4 separate regions of the Homo sapiens genome follow, and regions 2, 3 and 4 are each linked to region 1. The links come from fine-mapping of genetic effects on gene expression. A gene starts in region 1. Each other region holds a variant in brackets. All regions are shown on one strand. Distances are between the middles of the regions. Region 1 holds the start of WDR86 (WD repeat domain 86). Region 2 holds the start of CRYGN (crystallin gamma N). Region 3 overlaps CRYGN (crystallin gamma N). Region 4 overlaps WDR86 (WD repeat domain 86).

What was found.
Region 2: its variant is fine-mapped to the expression of WDR86 in whole blood (TOPMed, PIP above 0.99). The same link has a PIP of 0.9 or more in blood mononuclear cells.
Region 3: its variant is fine-mapped to the expression of WDR86 in whole blood (TOPMed, PIP above 0.99).
Region 4: its variant is fine-mapped to the expression of WDR86 in whole blood (TOPMed, PIP above 0.99).

What each region holds. Positions count from the first base shown.
Region 1 is chr7:151,408,341-151,412,496 of GRCh38, reverse strand. It overlaps WDR86 (WD repeat domain 86), which reads left to right and starts at 2,459. Exons shown (of 6, transcript NM_198285.3): 1 at 2,459-3,070. The coding sequence starts at 2,908. WDR86-AS1 (WDR86 antisense RNA 1) reads right to left here and starts at 3,336. Exons shown (of 6, transcript NR_109857.1): 1 at 3,115-3,336; 2 at 1,185-1,269; 3 at 705-827; 4 at 427-530. RefSeq lists an enhancer at 1,261-1,893.
Region 2 is chr7:151,439,221-151,443,376 of GRCh38, reverse strand. CRYGN (crystallin gamma N) reads left to right here and starts at 3,236. Exons shown (of 4, transcript NM_144727.3): 1 at 3,236-3,480. The coding sequence starts at 3,460. RefSeq lists enhancers at 2,208-2,744, 3,456-3,956, 3,957-4,156. The variant A/G (reference allele first, on the strand shown) is at 1,759.
Region 3 is chr7:151,427,539-151,431,694 of GRCh38, reverse strand. CRYGN (crystallin gamma N) reads left to right here. Exons shown (of 4, transcript NM_144727.3): 4 at 1,515-2,863. The coding sequence ends at 1,647. Among named protein-coding and RNA genes, the nearest start is that of MIR3907, 4.0 kb to the left of the region's middle. RefSeq lists enhancers at 1,298-1,497, 1,818-1,887, 2,665-3,184. The variant C/A (reference allele first, on the strand shown) is at 1,599.
Region 4 is chr7:151,379,649-151,383,804 of GRCh38, reverse strand. WDR86 (WD repeat domain 86) reads left to right here. Exons shown (of 6, transcript NM_198285.3): 5 at 1,824-1,927; 6 at 2,059-2,681. The coding sequence ends at 2,223. Among named protein-coding and RNA genes, the nearest start is that of WDR86-AS1, 27 kb to the left of the region's middle. RefSeq lists silencers at 2,019-2,258, 2,279-2,438. The variant C/T (reference allele first, on the strand shown) is at 2,046.

The DNA of each region.
Region 1 (4,156 bases):
ATATCCAGCTTTCACCATGCTTCTCAGAGAGGCCCCAGAGGGTCACTCTTTCCAGCAGGGTAAATTGTGGCAGTCCCTGTGGCACGGGGAATGAGCACTCCCTGGCACAAAATGCACCCGCCCCCCAACCCTTCACTTGTTAAACACTGCCCATTTCTTGCTTCTTAAAGCTTAACCATTTCCTCCTACACCCTACCAGGTTCCCTTCCCAAGGTGCCTTCCATTTATAAAGTGATTAGGTCCAGGAGGGCCTGGGCACCACGGGACTCCAGGCCCTCTTGGAGGCTCCAGAAGAGTTAAAGGTGTGAAAGGGGAAGGGAGCCCAGGTTCTGCTGGGGACCCAGCCTGACTCCTGGGTCTCTATAGCTTTGCTATCTTAAGGTGGAGGTTGGGGGAGACCCCAGTTTCAGGGGAATTAGGGGAGACCTCAGTTCCAGGGGAATTCGGTGCTGTTTTCCAATCTACCCAGCTTCTTGTACTCCTGTTAGATCTGGGGGCAATTTCCCAGAGGAGAGTCTGTAATCTACGACCTGCAAGAGAAAAGGGAAGACAGGCTGGCTGAGGACATCTGCACCCACAGCTCTACAGTCCAGACTCAACCCCCAGAGATGGCTGGCTCATCCCCACCAGGGGGCCACTTTGTGCCAAACCGGAGAAGGAGGGGTGGGGGAGGTGGAGAAGCCAAGAACAAAAAATCTATCAACCTGGAAAGAGGAAGTAGGTAAGGTCAGCGGTGTGTGGACTGCAGGCTCCCAAGATGATGGCGCTGGCGCTTCTGAACGCTCTGCCTGCTGGGAGCTGAGCATGGGGCTGATGGCTTGTGTTGGCTGCAGAGGAGAGGAACCAGAGTGCATGGGTGCCACCTTGCTCAGGAATCCTGGGTGACCTCCTTGAAAGTTAAGCTTTTCTCCTGGTGGTTCTTTCCTCTGGCCCACGACCAGGCAAGCTCGCCCAACCTACGATCTGTCCCCAGCTCCCAAACTGCTTTCAAACCCCTCCCCTCTTAGTTTCCAAAAGAGTCGATGCCTGGTTCTCCTTGGCCCCTCTGCCCAGAAAGTTTGGGTTTCCTCTGGCACTTCTCCGGATAAACCCTCCCAGCCTCCATGGTCCTCACATTCACCTTCCCCAAGGGCTGCAGCCGCAGGGCCTGCCCAAGATCCCCACTATACCGAGTCTGTCCTCACCTGGAGGCCACACCGCAGTTTCACACCTGGATGTGCAATGGGCCCCCTGAGGTTCACCGGTTCCTAAGAGGAACTGGTGATCAGCCTGTAGGGGACAAAACAGTCTACCCAGCCTCTCAGCACAAGACAGGCTCCCCGGCCTCTCCCGCCTCGCAGGCATCCAAATGCTGAAGCCTCCACCTCCTGAAAACGTCTCTCCTTTCGGCCTCCCTCTCTCCGGCTGGATGACCCCAAATCTCGTCCTAACGCTCCTCCACTGCCCCTCTCTCCACCACCTGCTAAGGAAGGGCCACGCTCCTTAAGCTGAGGCGCCAGCTGCTTTACAAGTTTTGAGGGAAAAGAACGGATTTCTCTGGTTAGGCCACTCTGGGTATAAACGACCCAACGGCCTGGGACACCCCACGATGGGGTTTTCTTTTGGAGTCTGGATAGAGCAGAGCGTGCAGTACTGGTCGTCCCATTGCGGGCTAGCTCGCCAAAGACGCCCCTTCCTTGCCCTTCTCCCTAGGCTCCTGAGAGAGCCCTGGAGCGTTCTGGAAATCCTGCTACCTTTAGGACCTGGGGGATCCGAGTAGGGGGGTCACCTTCCCCGTCCCCAGCGAAGTCGGCGCCGGAACTGCCCTAATGGAAACCAGCCGCCGGGCGCTCCGGGAGGGCTCAGGCCGACCCCGGGGTCCATTAGAGGCGCCCCAGGCCGAGGGAGCCCGCGGCGGCTGGAAGGTGAACTTGACATCCCGGCTCCACCGACCCCGCAGCGGCTCGCACCTCATCCCCACTCCGGCCAGACCAAAGTAGAATCCTGGGTGTGCGCGTGATTTCCCAGGGAGGGCGGACTCGGGGCTTTCCCTGTCGCACCCTCCATTGGGGGACCGCCCCCAAGTCCCCGAGAGCCCCTCGGGCAGAGTCCTTAGGGCTCAGAGCATGGGAGGACCTGGCTTGCCTGGTGGAGGCGAGTAGCCGAGGGGTCGGTGGAGCTGCGCCCCAAATGAGTTCCCGGCGCGCGATTCTCCCCGACCCCGACCCTTTGTCCGCCTCCCCCTCCCTCGTCCCGGCCCTTGGCTCAGGGGACCCAGGCGGCGGCGGCGGAGGTGGCAGAGGCCAGAGCCCAGAGGCGCAGCCCGGGCAGCTAGGAGGGTCGCACGTGGAGCCGTCCCCCGGACCCGCACAGCGACGAAGGGGGGAGGCTGCAGGCGCGCGGGGTGGGGGCTGGGGCGCAGCCCGAGAAGTGGGAGGGGATCGGGTGAGGGGTGGTCTCTGAGGAGGAGCCAGGCTGGACCGTATTGTTCCGCGCTCGGCCGGGGAGGGCGCGGGGCGCTCGGCTTCCCGTGTTCCTCTCCCCGCCCCAGCCCCGTGGGCGCGAGAGGAGGCGGGGGGCTCCTTGTGCACCAGAGACGCAGCTGCCTTGTTCGCCCGGTGGGGTGTGGATCCTCCGAGCGGTGCTGGGAAGGGGGTTCTCTCTGCCCGCGCGCCCAGGACTCTACCCAGGGCGGAGGTCCCGAGTGGGCCGCCCCCCGCAGCGCCCTGGGTTCGCGGGCCCAGAGGCTGGAGGCAGCGGGGAGCTAGGGTCCTTCACCCTCCCCTCGCCGCGTGCCTCCGCAGGAGTCGGGCTCCCCGTTCCCCGCGATGGCCGCGGGCCGCAGTCGTACGGAGCCGCCGCGCGGACCCCGGGGCGCCCCTCCCTAGCGGGGCGCAGCTCCTTCTTGTTCCCCGCCCTGCCAGCGGGATGGGGGGCGGCGGGTCGGCCCTGAGGGTCTGCGCCGACCACCGCGGGGGCATCAACTGGCTGAGCCTGAGCCCCGACGGGCAGCGCCTGCTGACGGGCAGCGAGGACGGCACGGCCCGGCTCTGGAGCACCGCGGACGGCCAGTGCTGCGCGCTCCTGCAAGGTAGACCCTCCCACTCCCTCCCTGACCTCTTCGCCGCAGCTCACCGGCCCCAGACCGCGGACCCCAGCTCCTGCGCCCGCAGACCCCTTTCTAGAAGTCCAGCCCCCGCTCATCCCGGCACACTAGCGGAAGAGCGCTTGTCTGGGCCCAGCATCTGGCTGTTGAGCGCACGGCAGGGCAGGGTGAGGTCTGGGGGTGGGGTGCGGGTGCAGAGCAGGGTGCGGCCGGGATCGGGTGGGTGGGTCGAGGGGCGTCCGCTACAAAGGCGAAGATCATTTGTCAACCAGCGGCAGGAAATCTCCCTTGACAACAATGTTAACAAACAAAAAGTTGCACCTATACTCCTTCTAAGCAAACCTTCCCTTGTCTCTAGGTGCCTTGTGGCCTCTTTGTGGCCAATTGTGCTCTTCTGCTGGCATTTCCTGTTGACGACTCTCACAGCAACAGTAGACGCTTGTTAAGGGCCAGCGGTGCGGAGAAGTGTGCCGTCGTCACACTATGTTACCCCACATACAGACGTGGAAACAGGCTGGGAGTTAAGTAATTCGCCCAGGTCGCACAGCCAGTGAGGGGTAGATGGCAGTCTGAGCCCTCTCATTGCTGTAAACCCTGCCTGCATGCCTGTTGGTTTCTATTTGTGCCCTGTACTCACTCAGGAGGTCAGTGTGCCTCGGGTGCACCTTCCCCTGGGCCTGTCCCATGCACTGTGAGGTCCCTTTCAGCTCTGGCCCTCCTACTGCCCAGGTAGCACACGTAGTCCCCTGGATGAGCCGCGAGGCTTTCTGCTGTGGGTAGTTCTTTATCACCGCGGGCTTTTCCACCATCATCAGTGAACTCTCTGTGGCCTCGCCCAGGCCTTCCAACTTAGGTAGGATATTAGCCCCAATATTGGCTAATCCTGATACTGCTGGTTTTAAATAAGAACAGTTGACCAGGCTCGGTGGCTCACACTTGTAATCCCAACACTTTGGGAGGCCAAGGTGGGTGGATCACCAGAGGTCAGGAGTTTGAGACCAGCCTGGCCAACATGATGAAACCCTGTGTCTAATAAAAATACAAAAAATTAGCTGGGCGTGGTGGCGGGCG
Region 2 (4,156 bases), 31 kb before region 1:
ACCAAAATGTCCTTCCATTGATGAATAGATAACTAAACTGTGGTACTTCCAGACAAGGGAACATGATTCAGCAGTAAAAAGAAATGAGAGACTAGGCCAGGAAAAGATATGAGGGAATCTTAAATGCATATTACTAAGTGGAAGAAACCAATCTGAGAAAGCTACTTGCTGTCTTAGTCCGTTTTGTGCCGCTATAACAGAATACCACAGACTGGGTAATTTACAATGAACACAAATGTACTGGCTCACAGTTCTGGAGGCTGAGAAGTCTAACATCACGGTGCTGGCATCTTTCAAGGGCCTTCTTGCTGTATCATCCCATGGGAGAAGGGCAAAGAGAGGGTGAGAGAGAGCAAGCGGTTGACCTTGTAGCCCTTTATGGTCAGCGTTAATCCATGAATGAGGGTGAAGCCCTCATGACCTAAACCCTTCCCATGAGACCGCATCTTTCAACATTGTTGCATTGGGGATTAAGTTTCCAACACATGTGTTTTGGGGGACACGTTCAAACCGTAGTAGCTACATACTGTAAGATTCCAAATACATGACATCCTGAAAAAGGCAAAACCGTGAAGATAGTAAAAAGATCAGTGGTTGCCAGGAGTTAAGGGGGAGAGAGGGATAAACAGATGGAGCCCAGGGGACTTTTTTTTTTATCTTTTTTTTTTTTTTTTTGAGACGGAGTTTAACTCTGTCGTCCAGGCTGGAGTGCAGTGGCGCAATCTTGGCTCACTACAACCTCCACCTTCCAGGTTCAAGCAATTCTCACTGCCTCAGCCTCCTGAGTAGCTAGGATTACAGGCGCCTGCCACCACGCCTGGCTAGTTTTTGTATTTTTAGTAGAGACAGGGTTTCGCCCTGTTGGCCAGGCTGGTCTCAAACTCCTGACCTTAGGTGATCCACCCGCCCCGGCCTCCCAAAGTGCTGGGATTACAGGTGTGAGCCGCCGTGCCCAGCCCACACAGGGGACTTTTAAGGTGGTGAGAATACTCTACCTGGTGCTCTAATGGTGGAACCATGGCATTACACTGTAGAGGCAGCAAAGTTCTACCTCCATCCTCTTAGGGTCCTGGCTGGGCCTGAGAAATAAATTGACCTAAGACAGATTAACAAGAGAAAAGCATACAAACTTATTTAATACAAGTTTTATGTGGCATGGGAGCCCTTATAAGGAGATGAAGACCCAAAGAAAAAGTTAAGAGTCAAACACTTACATACTCAACTGGACAAAGAGTAGCAAGCTGTGAAAAATCAACCACATTATGTGGGGAGGCTTTAAAAATGTGTTATTTTAACAAAGTCTACGCCGCATTCTCTCAACTTCTCATCCTGTATCCCGATGTATAACATAGGTTCATCGGCTGTGACAAATGTACCACTCTAATGGGGGCGCTGATTGTGGAGGAGGCTCTGTGTGTGTGTGTGTGTGTGTGTGTGTGTGTGTGTGTGTGTGTGTAGGGGCAGGGGGTATACAGGAAATTGCTGTACCTTTTGCTGAATTCAACTTGAACCTAAAGCTGCTCTAAAAAATAAAACCTTTTTTTAAGGCTTATTTTTCCCTGTTGAAAATAAGGGAAGAGGCTTCCCTTTCCTCCCTTTTCTTGCAGAATTTCCTTCTCTGTCATTTTCAAATGTGTGTAAATCTTTTTAATGGCTAAACAAGCCTCTTGCCAGTCTAACAACTCAGTCATGTTTCCTCTGGGAGCCTCTTTGAGTCTTGACATCAAGGAGTAAGTGCCCCCACCCTCCCCGTTTCCT[A/G]AGAAGCCTGACTTCAGCTGTCACCTGACTCCAAATTGCAAAACCCACCTCCAGTCATAGAGATACAAGAAAATCAGCAATTTTATCCTGAAAACATGAATGCAGTGGGTTGTGTCTGCTTGGCTACAGAAGAGTGAGATCTCTCTCCATCTTTGCGATCTCTTAGGGGAGAGATCGTGATGCAGATCGCATTCCAGTTTAAAGTTTATTCAATAATAAAATTGTTTTTTTTTCCTTCTACCTTCGTGGAGAAGTTTTCTGGGTTGGCTGGAGATTTTGTTTTTAATTTTATGTCCCCACCAGGGCCCAGGTCCAGAGAGAAACATTGGAATGTGTGGCTTGGCAAGTAAGGGCGCCAGTGGAGGCAGCTGGGCGGCGTCCCTAGGGAGGGGCGTCCCTAGGGAGGACCGTCCCTGGGTTCAAGGGTGACATGCAGGTTCTGGTTTGTACCCTGTCTACTTTTGAAAACCTCCCACAGCAGAGGCAAGGTCACCCCTCTGCCCCAAGAATCACATAACCTCCTCTTCCTGGGCCTCAGTGTCTCATCTGTGAAATGGTCATAAAAATATACTGTTTGAAGGAAGAGCAGCCCAAACTCCTCCCCAAAGCTCCTCCCTCCCCTCCAGCAGAAGCCCCTGTGGAGCACCTGCCCCTCTCTCCTTTGATCTCAGAGCCTGTCCCCCACCACCCCAGCCATCTGAGTCATGAGTCCTGTGTTCCCAGCTCATCTCCCCAGCCGTGTGGGGGCTGCACATCCTGTGGGCTCCATGTTCGCTCTGCTCACTCCACAATCTCTGAGCCTCTGCTGTCTGCCAAGTGCTCGTTCTGGGCCCTGGGGAACTCTCCCTCCGCGGTGGGGCTGCTTTGTGCTGTAAACTGATCCTGGGCGTCCAGGGTGGCTTAGTTGGTGCAGCAGAGAGGCAAGGGGCAGAGCACTGTACCCCCAGCTCAGGGCAGCGCGGGTCACCTGGTCACCCTAGGCAGGATCTTCAAGGAGAGAGGGACCCAGGGAGGGAGAGTGCCAGGGAGGGAGGCAGGCAGGAAGAGAGCGGGAGGAGGGAGGCCTGACCTGGCCTGGCGTTTTGTGGGGTGTGGGGGGGTGCATCAGGAGCTGGGTGAGTTGGAGCCGGAGGTCTAAGGTGGGGACCTGGGAGCTCAGACCAGAGCAGCCAGGGGAGGGGCGGTCAAGGGCTGTCTGTCTGTCCGGGGAAGCTTGGGTTGCATCCTCGTGGAGACAAACAAGTTGGCACCAAGGCGAGACTACCTGCAGCCAGGTGAGAAAGGGGAGTGGGCTGGGGAGCTCGGAACAGGCCTTGGGAGGGAGGGAGATGGGCGTGAGGGCTGAGGGGCAGCGCAGGGGAAGAAAGGTTGGAGGGCTAGAGAGACACCTCCCCTCCTCCCCCCACCACTCCAGGGCAGGGCAGGGGCAGCCGCGGGCTGGGCGGGAGGGCTCAGGGAGGAAGGAGGCTCGGGAGCTAAACGCGGAGAGCACAGGGAGACCCCGGGCAGGGCGGGCTGCACTCGCGGTGGCACAGGGTGGCCGCGGCGGGTCCCAACCGCCTGGTGGCCCCTCGGGCTTAGCACGCCCGACAGCACTAACGCTCCGGGGCCGGCCCAGCAAATCTTTTGTCCGGGGCGGCGCTGAGCCAGCAGGGCGCTGCCCGGTGTAAACGGGGACCCGCGGAAGGGGCGGGGCGCACCATGGCGCAGCGCTCGGGGAAGGTGAGTGCGTCCCTCAACCCCAAGGAAACCGAGTGGGGCTCCGCCTTCGCCCCCTGTGCTAGGGGATGCAGGAGGGTGCACACTGTTGATGGTGACAAATCCAAGGGAAGCTGGTTTAATTTCTTAATAAAATGGGGTGGCCTCGCTACTGGCCTGGGGCCTCTCTGGTGTGGATGGATAGGAAGGTCTCCATCTCCACTCCTTCCTTCTGGGATTCCAACCCCTCGCCCTGCAGTCAGGAGCAGGGAGGGTGTTCAGACTCCCTGGGGCTTCCTTGGGGTGGGGGAGGCTTGGCTTGTCCCACAGCCCTCCGCCCCACTGCTGCGGCTTCTTTGCCCAAGGCTGGCCTCTATGGCTTTTCCTTCCCAGGGTCTCTTCAGGGACACTTAGGGCTGGTTCTCTGAAAAATGTTGAGATTTGAGGGAGCCCCGAATCCCTTTGGTGCCCAGACCTCCCTGAAGGTTTCAGGGGCCCTCTACCAGCCGTGCCTGGTGCAGGAAGGACGGGAGACCTGGCTCTCCCTCGCCCTCTCCAGTGCCCCTAGCCTAGCCACTCCCATGAAGCCTTTGGTCTCCAAGGCCACATTCCAGAGTGTCTGGGGGTGACTGTGTTGCTGTATCAGTCTGCATGGGCCAGGTGATGCTTCAGTAACAAAGGGCCCCAGTAACTCTGGGGT
Region 3 (4,156 bases), 19 kb before region 1:
GTTTCGACCCAGGGCAGACCCCTCTCCTGCGAGAGAGAAAACAGTTAGTGGTGGTGAGTGTCAGGGTGGGGGCTTAGCTTGAACAGGTGGGCTCTGTGGGAATGGAGGGGCTTTCGGGGAGAAAGGGGCATGGGGCGTGTCTGCTGCAGCCATAGCCCCTGGAGCAGTAGGGCTGGCAGACCCAGAACCGGCGGCTCGCGTCTTCAGCTGGTGCAGCACCAAGCGCTCGCCTGTAGAATTCCTCCATTCCTGGGCCCTCTCCAGGACACTGGGTCCTCCTGTTGGGGTGGGCTTGAATCTAGAGGGGACACCCCACCCTTGAGGGGCAGAGGGGAGGGAGAAGTCTGTCCTGGAAGGAGATACTCGGCCCAGGCAGTGGGATTCCTGGGCATAAGAGGTCCACGTCCCCAAAAGCATCCCCCCACTCCCTCCCCACCCACGCCTATGCTTCCAACTCACTGGGGAGAGAGGAAAGGTCCCACGAGGGGAACTCTGGTCCCTGGGGGTGGCCCAGGTAACTCCCTGCTGCCGGCAGCCCTCCAGCAGAGTCCTGAATGGAGCCTGCCTGTGAGGAAACCATAGCCCACCCCAGAAGGAGGCAACAGATGGAGTGCTCTGGGCTTCTGAGGAGAACACAGGGGCCCTGGACCCGAGATTCCTGAGCATGGGGGCTCCTGGACATGGAGACCCCAAAGATGTCCACATGGCCTGTGCCTGGACCAAGGCCTGGCTGGATGAGGGATCAGTGGGGGGCCAGGTGCATGGGTTGGATCACCCGTGTGCCCACAGAGTTCTGGCTGTGGATCTGACTCCTGGTCCAGCCTCTAATCCCCGACTGCGATCCCAGAGTCCCCCCAACCAACTGGCTCCCGACTGGCCTCTCAGTTCCCGGGTCCTCCTCACCATACATCTTACTCCAGTTTTCTGAGTAGATGGAGGGGTTTGGACTGGGGATCAGCCCCTCTAGGCTGGTCGCCCAGCTCAGGACTCCGAGGGAAAGCCCATGAGCCCTGGGTTACTATCTGAGTTGAACTGAGACACCCCGACAGGCCTAGGGGGTGATGGAGTACGGCAGGGAGCTCAGCGAGGGAACACAGGGTTCCCGAGAGAAAAACAAAATCTCAGGGGCTGATTCTGTCGCACAGTGTGGTGGCCTGAGTGTGGTGGGCCAGGGGATGGCTGTCCCGTTCCTGGGTGTCCTCCAACCTCTCCCCATCCCTCACTGAGAGAGCAATGGAAAAAGAGTCACGATGGGTCACCCAATTCACCCAAGACAATTCCCCACCAAGAGCTGGGTGGCAAAGACGGAGGGGCCCCATGACTGCTGTGGGACCCCCGTAGGCTGTCCCATGACAGCCGAGGCCAAATGAAGACATGAAACCACTAGGCAACCGTCCACTCCGCCCAGGAAAGGGGAAGGGGCTCCCTGCTGCCATGTGGTAGATGGGTCCCCAAAAGGCCTGCTCTGTACCCCTAATGCCCTGGCCCCACCTCCTTTCACCTGCAAACCACAGAGCATGGAGCCCTAGAAGCTTCGGAGCTGAGGACTTCCAGCTGAGCAGCTCTCTTCAATCAGATCAAGGACCGGAAGAGGCCAC[C/A]ACAAAACCAGCAACAACCCAGCCACCTTTCCTGACTGCAAACCTCTGAGCCTGGAACCGATTGACATGTAAATGCACCTGCACCGTTTCTGAGCCGGGAGAGTGTTTACTTAAAATCATGCCCTCAGTTTTCATTTCTCTGCCAGTTTGTTAGGGAGGTGGAGCCTTCTGTGTGTCATATCTGCCAGCGGGAGGCCCTCCCCACCCATGGCAAGGGCCCTGTCTCTTCTGAAACAGCCGTCCAACCCTCCACCCCACAGCCTCCTTGGGCCTTGGCACCCTGCTGGCCTCAGGCCTCCACAATCTCGCACCTCAGCCCACAGCTGATGATGGTGATGATGTTGATGAATATTTATGGAGCACTGACTTAATGCCAGGCTCTGTAGTAGCTGGAATCTGTGTAATTTTACTTATCATATACAATAATGCCAAGATGATATGCTTATCACCACTGTACAGTTGAGGAGAGCCAGCCACAGACAGGTTAAGCAACTTGCCCAGGGTCACACAGCAGTCAGGACTAAAACCCAGGTCTGGCTGGCTGATTGATCCTTTTCGTTCCTAACCACTCCTCTATAGAGCACCACACATTTGCATATTTAGATATATTTTTGTCATGAATTTGGCGCAAACCCAAAGCCTCTCCAGGCCTCAGACCCTGTTCTGTGAAATGAGTGCAATCATGTCTGCTGTACCAACTGTATACCCTTGTAAAAGCCAAAGGCGTGACCCATGAGCGGGTGCCATATGAGGGCTGGTTAGTAGTAGGTGACCCAGTAGGTGACGGGGTGGGGAAGCAGGCAGGGGAGTGGCATCACAGGAGAGAAGGTAACTTGGCTCCAAACTCCAACCTGATTCCCACTCCATCCCTCACTAGGATGTGACATTGGAGAAGCCACTGCTGTGTGTCTCAGTGTCTTCAGACGTACAGCAGTGGTAATCATTCCGCCCCCTCATAGGCAATTAATGCCTGGGGAATGAAATGAGAACTGCAGGCCCCACCGGTTCAGTCCAGGTCCTTGGGAGTCACGGGAAAAACCAGGCCTAGCAGCCCTTCCCATGAGTTCCAGAGGCTTCCCCTGAACTCTTCCTCTCCTCCCCAGCACCAAGGCTTAGCAGCATCTCATTAACTGGTGATTTAATGCTTCTCGAATGGGCTTTGTGCTCCTGGGTGACCTCCCCCTCACCCCAGCCCCCTGCTCCCTAATCTGTCAGCAAATCTGCTTTTTGTCTGAAAGAGGAAAAACAAGATTCCCACCAAAGTGCTTGTGGGCAGCTTGTAATTTATCTGAAGTCCGTCCAGGGGTCGATGGACCGAGGGTGAGAGGCCCTCAAGAGCCACACATGCTTCACATATTTCTACCTCCCTCTGTGGTTTGGAAAGCTGGGACTTTCACAGAGCCATCCCCTCATGTCCTCAGCCCTAGGTCCCCCTGCCCTGCTGGCCCCCCGTGCACTGTTTATCAGGCCCAGTCTGACCACAGGAAAAACATTCCCTTTGAATCCCCCCAGCCACCCCATCCCCCGCACCAAGAAGTTCCTCTCACCAGCCAAGGGCTGGTCCAAGAAGTCTCTGTTGGCCCCTTCCCCTTCCTGGGCCTCCCTCCCATGCCCCGAGGTGGCCTGCGCCTGGCAGGCTACCGCCTTCTTGGCTGGAGGCTTCTTGGCTCACCTCTTCACCCCACTGGGTGCCTTAAGAGCAGGGCTGTCCTGCCTGTGTTCCCCCCAGGAAGCCACAACAGATCTTCAATCAAAGCCTGTTGGATGAGTTTGAGCCCAGGGACGTCAAAAAAAAAAAAAAAAAAAGAAGAAAGAAAAAGACAAACTAACAAAAAACTTGTCAAATGAGACAGTTTTAAAGGTTTAGCTCCAGAGTTTCAGTTTGTGAAGATGACAGACTTCTGGAGACAGACAGATGGTGCTGACGGCCGCACGACTATGTGTGTGTACTTAATGCCACTCAACCACACACTTCAAATGGTTAGGATGATAAATTGTATGTGTATTTTGCCATAATCAAAAAAAATTAACTCCTTGTTGCTGAGGTGCTCAGGACTGTTGGGGGCAATGTGGGAATGAAGGCCCTCGCTGGATCCCAGGGAACCCTGTGGGTCTCCTGTGCGACCATGCCCCACATTCCCTACCTGAAGAAGCTATCACCTGCTTATTGATTGCGTGGGTCCCATCGGCTTGGCAGGGCTCTTGGCTGTGGCTGCTGGGGAGGCTGAGATGCAGGAGGAGGAAGAGGAGGAGGAGGAGAAGGTCCTTGTCCTTCAGCAGGGATCCCTGGAGCGTCCCTGTGGTTACCTGGGACTAACCCTGCCTTCCGGACCCCCAGGACTTAGTAGCCCAGGTCTGGGGACACCAGGAAGGGGTGACTTGGGCAGCCTGCCCTGAACAGCGAGCATTTGTGTGAACAGGCTCCTGGCTTCCTTGCCTGTGGACAGCCCGCTTTGGAATTGTGATTTAAAAGGATCCTGTGGAACCCAGCTGGCGTGGGCTGTGCATGGAGGGGTGGAAGCCCTGGACCCAGCCTTGCTGGGGCTGGGGGATGGACT
Region 4 (4,156 bases), 29 kb after region 1:
TGATCAGACTTTGTTTTTGATCCTCTTCCCACCCGCGGGGAGCTCAGCAGCCACACTGGGTTTTCCAGGCCATGTCCATTTGTCTGAGTTTGTGGGGGGAAGGCAGAAAGGGGCTGAAAAGAGACCCAGAAATGAAACTTCCCCTCTGGGGCCATTCACTCTGTAGTTTTAACAAAAAGGCTGGAACAGGCTGGGCACCGTGGCTCATGCCTGTAATCCCAGCACTTTGGGAAGCCAAGGCGGGAGGATCTCTTGAGCTCAGTAGTTCAAGACCAGCCTGAGCAACATAGCAAGACCCTGTCTCTACAAACATTTTTTTTTTTTTTTTTTTGAGACGGAGTCTTGCTCTGTGGCCCAGGCTGGAGTGAAATGGCGCAGTCTAGGCTCACTGCCACCTCCACTTCCCAGATTCAAGTGATTCTCCTGCCTCAGCCTCCTAAGTAACTGGGACTACAGGTGTGTGCCACCACACCCAGCTAATTTTTGTATTTTTAGTAGAGACAGGGTTTCACCATGTTGGCCAGGCTGGTCTCAAACCCCTGATCTCATGATCTGCTCTGCCAGCTTCAGCTTCCCAAAGTGCTGAGATTACAGGCGTGAGCCACTGTGCCCAGCTCCCCCCCCCCACCCCGCCGCCCCGTTTTTTTTAAAATTAGCTGGGTGTAGTGGTGCATGCCTGTGGTCCCAGCTGCTCAGGAGGCTGAAGCGGGAGGATCGTTTGAGCCCAGGAGTTCAAGGTTAACAGTGAGCTAAGATGGTACCACTGCACTCCAGCCTCGGCAACAGAGTGAGACCCTGTCTCCCTGTAAGAAAAAAAAAAAAAAAGGCTGGGGAACAAGTACCCACAGAGCACCCTCAGATAGATAGGTAGCCCAGCACCCTTACCCTCAGGTGGTCCTACCCCTTTTCCCCAAGGTCCCTGGCAGGCTTGCACCATAGCTGCCCACCGTAGTTACCTGCTCATTGACAGACCCCACAGGACTTCCTCCCTCCCTTTCCATCTCCCATTTCCCTGTGAGCGTTTCCTGGGACGCCTGCCAGGTGAACTGTCTGCATCAAGTCCTAGCATCAGGGTCGGCTTCGGAGAGCCCAGCCTAGGCCAAGTGAGTTCTTCTAGTCCACATCCTCAGTGTGGCCTCCTGACTAGCAGCAGCATCACTTAAAACTGGTTAGAAATGCCGATTCTCAGGCCCCGCCTGCTAAATCAGATTCTGGGATGCGGCCCCGCGATCTGTGGCTAAGACCTCCAAGTGACGGATGCAAATGCAGGTTGCAGTTGGAAAACGATTGGACTGAAATCTTAGGAGAAACCCCAGGGAGAGGCAGCCACCTGGGGGAGGAGACAGACTGAGGTCGGAGGCTCGCCCCCGCTAGGGGTCCCGGGGGTGCGTGATCATGAACCCCAGAGGGCTGGGCTTTGATTTGAGTGCCGATCCGTTAATGAGGACGGGAGGATAAGGTTGCCGACGCAGCGGAAGGTAGGGGGGAAGCGACTCGAGGACCTGACGATTATCCCCAGGCAGGGGCTTCCCAAGCAGGCACGGAAACCAACTTCACCAAACCGCGGAGTGGGGACTGGGCCCGGGCGGTGTTCAGCAGGGCAGGGGCAGGGCCAGCTGGCGCGCAGGCATCTGCAGGGTGGAGCAGAATAACCGTGGGGACCCGTTTCTCTGGAGGGGCACTGTCCACTTCCCATATGAGCCTCAGGATACCCCCGTGGGGCGGAGTCTCGGAGACGCCCCAGGTCACGCTCTCGCCGCCCCATCCCTGCTTGCGGGGGGCCGAGCAGGGAGGGAGGCCCAGCGCGCGCTGTGTGTCCGCAGTGTTCACGGGCAGCGGGGACGCTTGCGCCCGGGCCTTCGACGCGCAGTCTGGAGAGCTGCGGAGGGTGTTCCGGGGCCACACATTCATCATCAACTGCATCCAGGTAGGTCCCTCTGCCCTTCTCGGGGCCGCCGCCCGTGGGAGGGAAGGTGCCCCGCCCCGATCCATCCACGCGGGCAGCGGTGTCCCCCCCGCCTACCGCGTCACCGGTGACGCCCGCC[C/T]CTGCGCCCGCAGGTGCACGGCCAGGTGCTCTACACCGCCTCGCACGACGGCGCCCTGCGCCTCTGGGACGTGCGCGGGCTCCGAGGTGCCCCGCGGCCCCCTCCGCCCATGCGCAGCCTCTCGCGGCTCTTCAGCAACAAGGTGGGCTGCGCCGCCGCGCCCCTGCAGCCGGCCTGATCCCGCGGGGCCCCTGCAGACGCCAGCCCAGACACCCAGCGGCTCCCAGAGCGCCCCGCCCTGCTACCCGCGGTGGTGGCGCCCGATGGCCGGCGAGGGGCGAGGAGCGAGGAAGCCCGGGCGGGAGGAGAGCCCGTCGCAGGCGTCTGGTTTTTCTTTGGTGGCCAGGAGGCGCTGGGAGCGGGAGTGCTCGCCCTGGGGACCGCCCCCTTTTCCCTTTTAGGGTGGCTCCTGTCCTCCCTCCCCATCCCTGACCTGGCGAAAGGCCTAGTCCTGGGGACCCTCCCACCTCAGGGGCTGCAGGCGGACTGCCCCAGCTCCCCCAGCCCCACGAAACTGGGCCTTTCCTGCTGAGAGGAAGTGACTTTTTACAGAAGCCACTGAACCTGGTTATTTTGGCAAATCGTCCGTCTCGAGGGCCTTGGGGGGAACTGAAATATACAGCCTGAACGTTAAAAGTGCTCCTGTGTCCTCTTTTTGTTTTGCAAACTGAGTCTCAGCTTCTTTTTGGAGCTTGGGATTCCAGGAACCCAGGGCGGCGGGCCTCCTGCCCTCTGCCTCTCACAACCGGCCTGGGCAGCCTTGGGGGTGACTTGTGGGTGCGCTGCGGGGCTGCCCCCAGTGTCACTGGTGCAGGAAGTGGATGGGGAAGAGGCCGGGGAGCAAGGGAGGAGCTCTTTAGCCTGTGCAGGTGACAGCGGGGACCCTGCTTGGGAGCAGGGTCATTTTCTGGCATGTCATTTTCTGGCATGAATCTAGGAAGTCCGTTCAGGGCCTGGAGTGGAAGGAGGGGTGGGGGCGGGCAGCAGCCCCACCCCGGGCTCGTGCACAGGAGCCAGGGCAGCGCCTGGTGCTGGAAGGCGCAACACACATGCCAGAGCCACCGGGCACCCAAGGGGAGCCCTGTGCCCAGGGGCTCGAGGGGCCAGTGGGGCTCAGTCTGCCGAGGGGCCCTGCAGGAGACCCCTCAGCACCCCTCACAGCACCTGAGCGGGGTGCTCTTCAGTCCCTTGATGGTGCCACTTTCTGCATCCATGTGCCCCGGTTGGCCCGGGTGCCAGGAGAGAAGCTGCAGGTGACAGTGTCTGCCGTGGAGAGCTCATCATCTCGCTGCAGAGAGAAGCACCTGCTGCAGGAGCAGCCCCTTCAAGTGGAGCAGCCCCTTCAAGTGGAGCAGCCCTTTCAGGTAGAGCAGCATGCGCTTCATAGTCTTAATGCAGAAGATACTTCATCAGAGACGGCCGGGGCCGCCAGGGATCACCTGCTAGGTGATGGGCGGGTCCGCCCTCGGGCGCGGATGAACAGGTAGGGATTGCACTGTGGGCAGTAGGAAGGAAAGGACGCAGGCGCTGTAACTCCTCTAGGCCAAACCTCCAAACCCTGGGAACCAAAGTGCCCCCGACCCCCACCCCAGGAAAATGGGCCTGTTGGGAGGCAAGCAGATCGGTGCAGGAGAACCCGCAGAAACGGCACCATGCACTGTTCTCCGGGTGAGACTTAAGCACACACAGACCTCGGGGGTGGCCAGGTCTTGCTGCGTCCCGGAGCCATTGGGGCCTGTGGCTGCCACAAGGGGCATACCTACCAGAGAGGACCTTTCCATCGTGCTGAAGGGACGGTTCCGGTGGCGCAGGCCAGAGAACCGCCTTGAGTGCTGCCTGCGGGCAGTGCTGCCGGCCGGCCCTGAGCCTGCACAGACGTTCACACTGACTCCTGCTTGCCGAAGACACTGCTGCTTGGTGATGCTGCGCTCTGGCCTGAGCAGCCCCTCACTGACACGTCAGCTCCAGTCCCCACCTTATCTCCCCACAGCAGAGAATGGAGCATGCATCAAGCCATCCAGAGAAACCCAGTGGGGCATGGACCCAAAACACGGGCGCTGCACTCACTTTGCATTTTTATAGCAACACACATTGGGGTAATTTCTACTTCC